Linked DNA regions of Homo sapiens: regions 2 and 3 are each linked to region 1. The links come from fine-mapping of genetic effects on gene expression. A gene starts in region 1. Each other region holds a variant in brackets. All regions are shown on one strand. Distances are between the middles of the regions. Region 1 holds the start of ELAPOR1 (endosome-lysosome associated apoptosis and autophagy regulator 1). Region 2 overlaps WDR47 (WD repeat domain 47). Region 3 overlaps ELAPOR1 (endosome-lysosome associated apoptosis and autophagy regulator 1).

The links. PIP is the estimated chance that this variant, and not a neighbour inherited with it, causes the effect. A credible set is the group of variants that fine-mapping cannot tell apart.
Region 2: its variant is the best candidate, but not a certain one, in a credible set for the expression of ELAPOR1 in whole blood (INTERVAL, PIP 0.52).
Region 3: its variant is the best candidate, but not a certain one, in a credible set for the expression of ELAPOR1 in whole blood (TOPMed, PIP 0.60).

Annotation. Positions count from the first base shown.
Region 1 is chr1:109,112,670-109,115,430 of GRCh38, forward strand. It overlaps ELAPOR1 (endosome-lysosome associated apoptosis and autophagy regulator 1), which reads left to right and starts at 1,446. Exons shown (of 22, transcript NM_020775.5): 1 at 1,446-1,667. The coding sequence starts at 1,515. CFAP276 (cilia and flagella associated protein 276) reads right to left here and starts at 78. Exons shown (of 5, transcript NM_001245025.3): 1 at 1-78. The coding sequence starts at 10. RefSeq lists a silencer at 1,198-1,267.
Region 2 is chr1:108,984,715-108,987,475 of GRCh38, forward strand. WDR47 (WD repeat domain 47) reads right to left here. Exons shown (of 15, transcript NM_001142551.2): 10 at 1,809-1,966. It also overlaps the pseudogene LOC107985160. Among named protein-coding and RNA genes, the nearest start is that of CLCC1, 23 kb to the left of the region's middle. The variant T/A (reference allele first, on the strand shown) is at 1,585.
Region 3 is chr1:109,184,065-109,186,825 of GRCh38, forward strand. ELAPOR1 (endosome-lysosome associated apoptosis and autophagy regulator 1) reads left to right here. Exons shown (of 22, transcript NM_020775.5): 8 at 981-1,069. Among named protein-coding and RNA genes, the nearest start is that of SARS1, 28 kb to the right of the region's middle. The variant T/C (reference allele first, on the strand shown) is at 1,393.

The DNA of each region.
Region 1 (2,761 bases):
TGGGAGGCATGGCTAAATGCCTAACTCTTTTAAGAGGGATGGGAGGCCCGCTCAGCCGCAGCACAGCCTCACTGGCATAAGATCCCGGGTCCCAATTGTTTGGAGCGCTGGTTTCGGTTGCCAGGCAACTGCCCAGCCATCTATGACAGAGGAATTCCCTCAGAGGAGGGCGCCACCTGGCGGCTGACCACGGGAGGCCCCTGGGGAGGAAGCTCCGGGGACTGCAGAGGGAACGTTCCGCTGAGCGGGCCCGAGACTTGGAATTGCACTCCTGAGCCTCGGCGGAAAAGTGCTGGCTGCTCACCATCAGGACTTCTGCAAAAGACTTCAGTTGAGGAAAGAAGTCCTGAAAGATGACCCAGAAATTTCCTTCTCCCTCGCACCTAACAAAAGGCTTTCAAAGCCATGAGAGAATGAGGATGTCAAGAGACCAAAGAGGGCCGGGCGCGGTGGTTCACGCCTGTAATCTCAGCACTTTGGGAAGCGGAGGCGGGCGGATCGCTTAAGCCCAAGAGTTCGAGACCAGTCTGGGCAACATGGCGAAACCCCGTCTCTACAAAAAGTAGGAAAAAAATTAGCTGGGCTTGGTGGCACGCGCCCGTAGTCCCAGCTACTCGGGAGGCTAATCCAGGAGAATCTCTTGAACCCGGAAGGCGGAGGTTGCAGTTAGCCGAGATCGCGCCACTGCACTCCAGTGTGGGCGAGAGAGTGAGACCCTGTCTCAGAGAGAGAGAGAGAGAGAGAGAAAGAGAGAGAGAGAGAGAGAGAGAGAGAGAGAGAGAGAGAGAGAGAGAGAGAGGCCCACGTGCGGCGCTTGGGAAATTGCGGCTAAGGCAAACTCCTCGCTTAAACTCGGATCAACTACAGTGTCAGGGCTTCTCTTCTAGCCGGTTGTAAAAGCACGGATGGATTTGGCGGGATGTAAGATCTCCAGGAGTGGCCTTCGTAGGAGGGAACACGTACTGGGGCCTCTTCCAGGCGACGACGTCTGGAGGGTGATCTCTCCATCTTCTTTCTCTCGGTTCACACGCCACGTGTGCAACATCGGAGATGCTCATAAAATAACCCCTGGCCCGAAAGGGCAGTAGAAAACGGAAATTTGTTGGCTGGCTTGGAGGATGCTTCCACTGTGTTCTTCACACGAGCCCCGGGCCTGCCTGTTGGGCCGGTTGCGCACCCCGGGCGCGCGCTCTCCCGCGCCCACGCCGCGCGCACCAGCGGCGGCGGCTGCCATGGCGACCCGCAGGTGAGCTGCAGAGGCGCGCGTGGTCCCTGCCCCACCCGCGCGGAGCCAGAGAGGAGGCGGTTGTCAAGGCGACGTGGGTAGGAGGAGAGGACAGAGGGAGGAGGAAGGATGGGCGGTGTTGGCGTAGCCGCAGGGAGGTGACTGAAGCGAGCCTGGCCTCTTGCATCCTCCGCCTGTGTACCTCCCTCCCCTTTTTTTCCGCCTTCTGCCAGCAGAAGCAGCAGCCGCAGCACCTGAGCCGCTACTGCCGCTCACTCAGGACAACGCTATGGCTGAGCCTGGGCACAGCCACCATCTCTCCGCCAGAGTCAGGGGAAGAACTGAGAGGCGCATACCCCGGCTGTGGCGGCTGCTGCTCTGGGCTGGGACCGCCTTCCAGGTGACCCAGGGAACGGGACCGGAGCTTCATGCCTGCAAAGAGGTACTGCCGCCCCCCTACCCGATCCCGCTTTGGTCACAAAAGTCTTGGATCCAGGCGGAGACCTTGGGGACCCAGGCGCAGAGAGTTTCAGACGCCACGGAGTTTAGATTTCTTTGGGGATGAGGCGTGGGGGGAGGGAAGAGGAGCCAGTCTGGCGTCATGAGGAGGCCAGCACATTGGAGGACTCACGGATAGATCATCCTCACAGATTGGGATGCTGAGCTCAGCGAGAAAGGTCCCAGCCCCAAGAAGGGGAGCTACCTGGGTACCTGAACTCAGAATGAGGGAGGCAGACGAGTTATTTTCCAGTTAGGATGAACTCACCTTAAAAGTGGTTGACAAGAAAAGATTATGCACAGAGAAGCAAAATAGGAAGAGGAAAGAAGAGTAGTGGGAGAGGAAAGGAGTTAGGAAGGCCAGAAAAAAGTATCAGAGCGAAGTGGTTTTATCATGGCTACACAAAACGGAGTGTGAAGGTGGGAGATGTGCGAGAGGGATGATAGGATTCCAGCTCTCTAGTTCCTTGTTTATTAAACATCGGTTAGTGCAGACTGTAAAATGTGTCTCCTCCTTATAGCTTGGCCTCCCCGCAGCGTACTATGTTTAGTGTACCTGACAGTACACGACTCACCTTTTTGCAGATTTTGAGTTCTTCAATATCTTGTGTTCTGCCAACCTCTAGTCTCCTTCTCTGACTTAACATATGTCAAAGTCTTTTTCAAGGTATTTCCAATATGTTGGAAGCAGAATTCAGACAATAGGTAGTCAATCTCTTATAACCAAAAATAGCTTTTGAAAAGTCATCTTGGAGGAACATAAAAGGGCACTAGCAGCAACAAAACTAAGTCATTTCTATGTTATTGAAATAACAATATTTGGTTGTGCTCTGAGCAACTTTTTTAGAAACCATATGGCAGAGGCAACAATAAGATATTTACAAGAACTACGTTGGGGAAGGCAAAATAAAAGTTCTGTTATTTCTGTGAAATGTGAAGGACTTCATAAAAAGTCAAGCATCTAGCTCTGTAAATTTAATCCCAAATATCAAGCTTGACTAAGGTTTTGAGAGGTTAGAATATATATATAGATGTATT
Region 2 (2,761 bases), 130 kb before region 1:
TAAAAATACAAAAATCAGCTAGGCATCGTGGTGCATGCCTGTAGTCCCAGCTACTCAGGAGGCTGAAGCAGGAGAATCACTTGAACCCAGGAGGTGGAGGTTACAGTGAGCTGAGGTCGTGCCAGTGCACTCCAGCCTGGCGACAGAGTGAGACTCTGTCTCAAAACAAAAACAAAAAAAACCCAAAAAACTGATCTAGAGAACAGACCAGATAAAAAGATTTTCTTTTCAGCTGCACAACCAATTATCACCAAGTCCCACCGATTCCTTCCTTAAATGGATTATACCTCTCAAATCCACCCACTTTGCTCCACCTCCACTGCCATCACATTACCATCAAATACAAACAGCTTCCTCCCTCTCTCCCAGTGTCTCCTCTTATTGCCATCCAATCACAGGCAGAGTCATCATCTCAAAATACATTTACACTTGATCTGCTACTTTCAGTGGTGTCCCACTGCACTCAGCATGAAATATAAAATGGCTAGAAAGCTCTGCCTAATTTAGTTCATGTCTATCTCTGCGGCCTTATCAAACTCAAGCTCATAATTTTCCAACCAATCTGAATTTATTTCAGTTCCTAAAAAAAGCCAAGCTCTTTCTCACCTCACGTTCCCTCTATATTATTCTCTTCTCCCTTCTCTTTACATAGCTAGGTTACTCCTCCTTAGATCTCAACTTTAGTGCCTCTTCCTCAAAGAAGTCTTTCTCTGACTCGCCAGTTTGCACCCTACTCCATCCCCATTTTATTCTCACAGCACGTTGTAATCTTTCTTCATAACATTTACCAAAATGTATATTTGTGTTCATTTGCATTATATCCATCTTCCCCACTAAACAAGAAGTTCCATGAAGCCAATAAACATGTTTGTTTTACACACAACTATAGTACCTAGCACATAGGAGCCCAAAATATATATTTGCTAAATAAATGTATTTATTTTCAAATCAGTTTCTTCACAGCCTATGAAACATCTGTGTCTGTATAAGAAATACAAAAGATGAGAAACAGTTACCTTAAGTTCAAGTTAACCCTAAACATATAAGTCTTTGGTTCTACCTCCATAATTATTGCTATTTCTCACTCCCTTATAGAGAATTTTGCCATTCTTTCTTAAGTATTTCGACTTAAATAATGCAGTGAGCACCAGTAAATTATAATACTATCAATTAACATGGACCTTATTATATTCCCTTTCCCAATCATTAAATGCTACCACAGTCCAAAAGCCTAAATTATTGGTTTCAGACATAGAGATAGCAAAAAAAAAAAAAAAATGCAAATAAATGAAAAATCCCACCCCTGTTTCTCAAACTAGGGTTATAATTAAAAAGTCTTAAGAGGTGTAAAAGAGTAAGAGTTATATGTAAATTACATACATAATTTATAAATAGGTGTGTATGAATAGGAAAAAACACAGTATACGTAGGGTTCAGTACCAGCCAAGGTTTCAGGAATCCACTGGGGTTCTTAAATGTATCCCTTGCAAATAAGGGGGGTCTACTATATAAAGACTTTTCAGATAAAAAACAAAATACAAAAGCCATGGAAATAAAGAAGTCTAAAGCCATAAATGAGCAATG[T/A]TGTAATCAAAAACATTTTATGAAAAAATTATGAAGTTAATGACTTAAGTATATTTCCTAAGCACTGAAAGTAAAAACAGTTATTTTATAACAGAAAATAAAGTTTAATCGAAGGAAAGAAAGTAAGATTTGAAACACTACTGAATGGCAATTCTGAAAAAGGAACCTATACGGCTAAATTAAAAACTAAGGTAAGAATGGCAGCACAAATCATTGATCCTTACCTTGGATCAATTACATCTGGATAGGCACATACTCTCAGAGTTTTTGAATTTGAACCAACAGCATATAAACCTCCAGCTGGATGAAAAGCCACTGCTCTAACAGCTTGTGTGTCTTCTAGGATATTAATACAAACAAACTGCTTTTTTGATTTGTCATCCTATGGAAAGAATGAATATTAGTTATCCTATTAAAAAAATGAATTTGAAAGAATTCATCTTTCTCCCATTTTAAATTCATTTGAACTTTATTATTCTTGTTGGATCATGTTAGGTTTACTGCCAATAACCATATATTCTTTTCTCTATGTTTTTCTTACTTTATTAAATCTTACTAATATCCTTTAAGAGGCAAACACACAGACAAGTAGGCTACAGTGAAGAAATCTTATTTTGGAGAGTTAAGAAACCACTAAGATACTTCCAGGTATTATCATCAGTGATGCTTCTTATCTTTACTCTGGGACACCAGGTAATATTAAACCCCTACAGCTACCACAAATGCAGCAAATCTTTGAATCCTTTTAATAATGCACCATCAGAGGAAACATTGTTTGCAAAGTCACCCATGTTTCTCTAAGCTTCATTACAGCCCCATAGATCCCTTAGCCCTCCTGCAGCCAGCTTCTCCTGGATAGTTTCTAATGGTGTTTCTTCTATCTTCCATTGTTTATAATCTGGAAATTCCATTTTACTATGTTCATGTTAACGTCCATGTCCATGGGCCATTTCTGTATTCTTTAGATGATTCTTTTAAAGTGCAGCATTATTGCTTTCCTTTTTTAAAAAGTTTTAATTTTTTTAATTAAAAAAAAATAGAGATGGAGTTTCGCCATGTTGCCCAGGCTGGTCTTGAACTTCTGGGCTCAAGCAATCTGCCCACCACGGCCTCTCAAAGTGCTGGGATTACAGGTGTGAGCCACCGCACCAGCCAATTGTTTGTTTTGTTTTGTTTT
Region 3 (2,761 bases), 71 kb after region 1:
AACAATAATAAAATAATAATAAAGAGGCCGGGCACGGTGGCTCACCCCTGTAATTCCAGCGCTTTGGGAGGCCGAGGAGGGCAGATCACCTGAAGTCAGGAGTTCGAGACCAGCCTGACCAACATGGAGAAACTCCGTCTCTACTAAAAATACAAAATTAGCCAGGCATGGTGACTCATGCCTGTAATTCCAGCTACTCAAGAAGCTGAGGCAGGAGAATCACTTGAACCTGGGAGGCGGAGGTTGCAGTGAGCCAAGATCGTGCCACTGCACTCCAGCCTGGGCAACAAGAGTGAAACTCCATCTCAATAATAATAATAATAAAGATAGTGTTGGGATGCTTGGGTTGAGGCAAGTGGGAAGAACCTTATGTGTTAGGTGGAGTCCAAGGAAATTACAAACCTGGTTTGTGTAGAATGATTGCATGAAGAAAAGGAAATTTCCAAGGTGGAAGGCCTTCATTCTAGGCATATATTAGAACATTCATAGAAAGGCTTGGAATGAGTATGAAAGCAAAATCATGTTTTACTTCAACACTTCAGGAGTAGAAAAACCACACCCAGAGTCAAGACACTAAGGCACCTGGAAGATGGTGAACTCTCTGAACCTCCCCAGGTTTCAGGGAACTTAGGTTGGCAGTGGTTAACCTGCAAGAAGCTGTTTCCGTCTACCCTCCTTGCTGGTCCTTTGGCCAGGCCACTTCTCCCTCCCTTGCCCCATGGGGCGGGGGACGGGAAGCGGCAAACAGTGGTTTCTCATCAGCACCTGGAACAGGTGCAAAGGGAAGCTTGAGCAGGGTTGGGGAACTGGAAATGACACTATTGAGACAAGGGGAAGGGTGAGTGTGCAGGATTTTCTACTTCCGGCAATATTTGTGTGGCAATGCACCCAGGGACTTGGGAGTCACAGGGCCATGAAGAGGCCAGGAGCTCAGCTTTCTTATGTAACTCCAAATATTTCTTCTTGCTTTGGCAATTTAGAGAAAGGATCTTCTTCCTGTAACGTGCGCCCAGCTTGCACAGACAAAGATTATTTCTACACACACACGGCCTGCGATGCCAACGGAGAGGTGGGTAGTACAGTCTTGGAGCCCCTTAGCCCCAGATGGACTGTCTCCCACTCCCTGAGGTTTGCCACCATTTGGAACTTCAGCAGTCAATGACATTGGCACTAGTTAAAACCCCACAGACCTTTGAGGTGACCCTAGGGCTAGGTGGGGTGGGGGGCAAAACGAGACCTCTTCATTCATTTTCCGGTCAGAAACTGTTTTTGCAGCGTTTGTTTCACTGTTTATGCACATATGTTCTGTTTCAAAAACCCACTTCATTCTCTCTTGCTTGGTTTCTTCTATTTGCCGAGCCACTCCGGCAGAGCCTGCCTGTCCGTACACAA[T/C]GTCCTCCCGGGGCTCTTCAGGCTCACCCCCTCGGCACTGTTTTGTGGGCTGGCACGGGGAATGGATTCCTGCCTATGGTCTGACTTGTTCCGTTTCTGCTGCTTCTCTTTCCTCCAGGCTTTCTGCTTCAGAAAAGAACTTTCCCTCCTAGTCTACACTGTCACTGAGTCAACAAGCATTTTTTGAGGCTGACTGATATGTCAGGCCTGGCACTATAGGCTGGGGAGTCAGAGACGACTGAAACAAGCTCCTGCCCCCAGGGAGCTCACAGTCCTGTATGAGAGGCTGGAGAGAGGAGAAAAACGGGCCCAGTCAAGGCAACCAGAGGGATGTGCAGGGAACTGGGGGAGCCCAGAAGAGAAGCGACCAGGACTTGGGGTGGGGGCAGCAGAGAAAGCCTCTCAGAGGAGGCCATTTGTTCAACAGTCAACAAATATTTATCGAGGAGCGACTCTGTGCCAGGCACGGTGCTAGGTGCTAGGCATGCATCACTTAACAAAACTGAGGGAACATCTAGCCCTTATGGAGCTTAACTCTTGTTGGGGAGGGAGTGGAGAGAGAGATAATAGACAACAAATGGGTATATAATATAGCAAATGGTAGTAAGTGGTAGGAAGGAAAAAAAAAAACCAGGATTAGGAGAGAGAGAATGAAGGAGGGTGGTGCCACTATTTTAGAAGGGTAGGGATGTCCTCTCAGGAGGTGACATTTGAGCAGAGACCTGAAGGAGATGAGGGAGGAGCCGTGGAGCTTTCCAGGCAGCAGACACAGCAGGAGAGGAGGCGGCAGCTGGGCCAGGTGGGTGGAGAAACAGTGTAAGTGAGCAGGGAAGGGCTTGAGGTGCACGGAGAAGGATCTGGCTGAGCTGTCTGTATCCCTAAGCTAGAGATTCTCAAGAGGATAGAACTAGGAGTTGGGCATTCTGCACTCAGCACTAAGCATGATGCTTGGCTCTTAGGGAGCATAAACATTTGCTGGCTGGGCGGCTGACTGAATTCTCCCTTTCCTAACTAAGCATGGGTTAAAGTCTGGTCCTTAACAATGAATATTTTGCACAGTCATCTCTTACCAACACCACCTCCCCCACGTATTTGGGGCATCATCCCCTTCTCCAGCAGCCAAGAGAGAATGGCTGTGTCTTGTCAGTTGCACCTTAGACTCAGTTCTGTGGTGTCTGGTATTCTGTATGACCTTGTGAACATTTATTTTCATTTTCTTGGTCTCAGCCAACTCACTAATAAAAGGCAGACAATTAATCCTGCTGCTCTTCTCCCTCCTGTTCATAACATGTGACTGAATGTGGCTGTCTTTCCTCCCTTCTGCCCCATTCTCTTCCCTCCCTGGGCTCACGCCAAGGCCTTCTGGGTC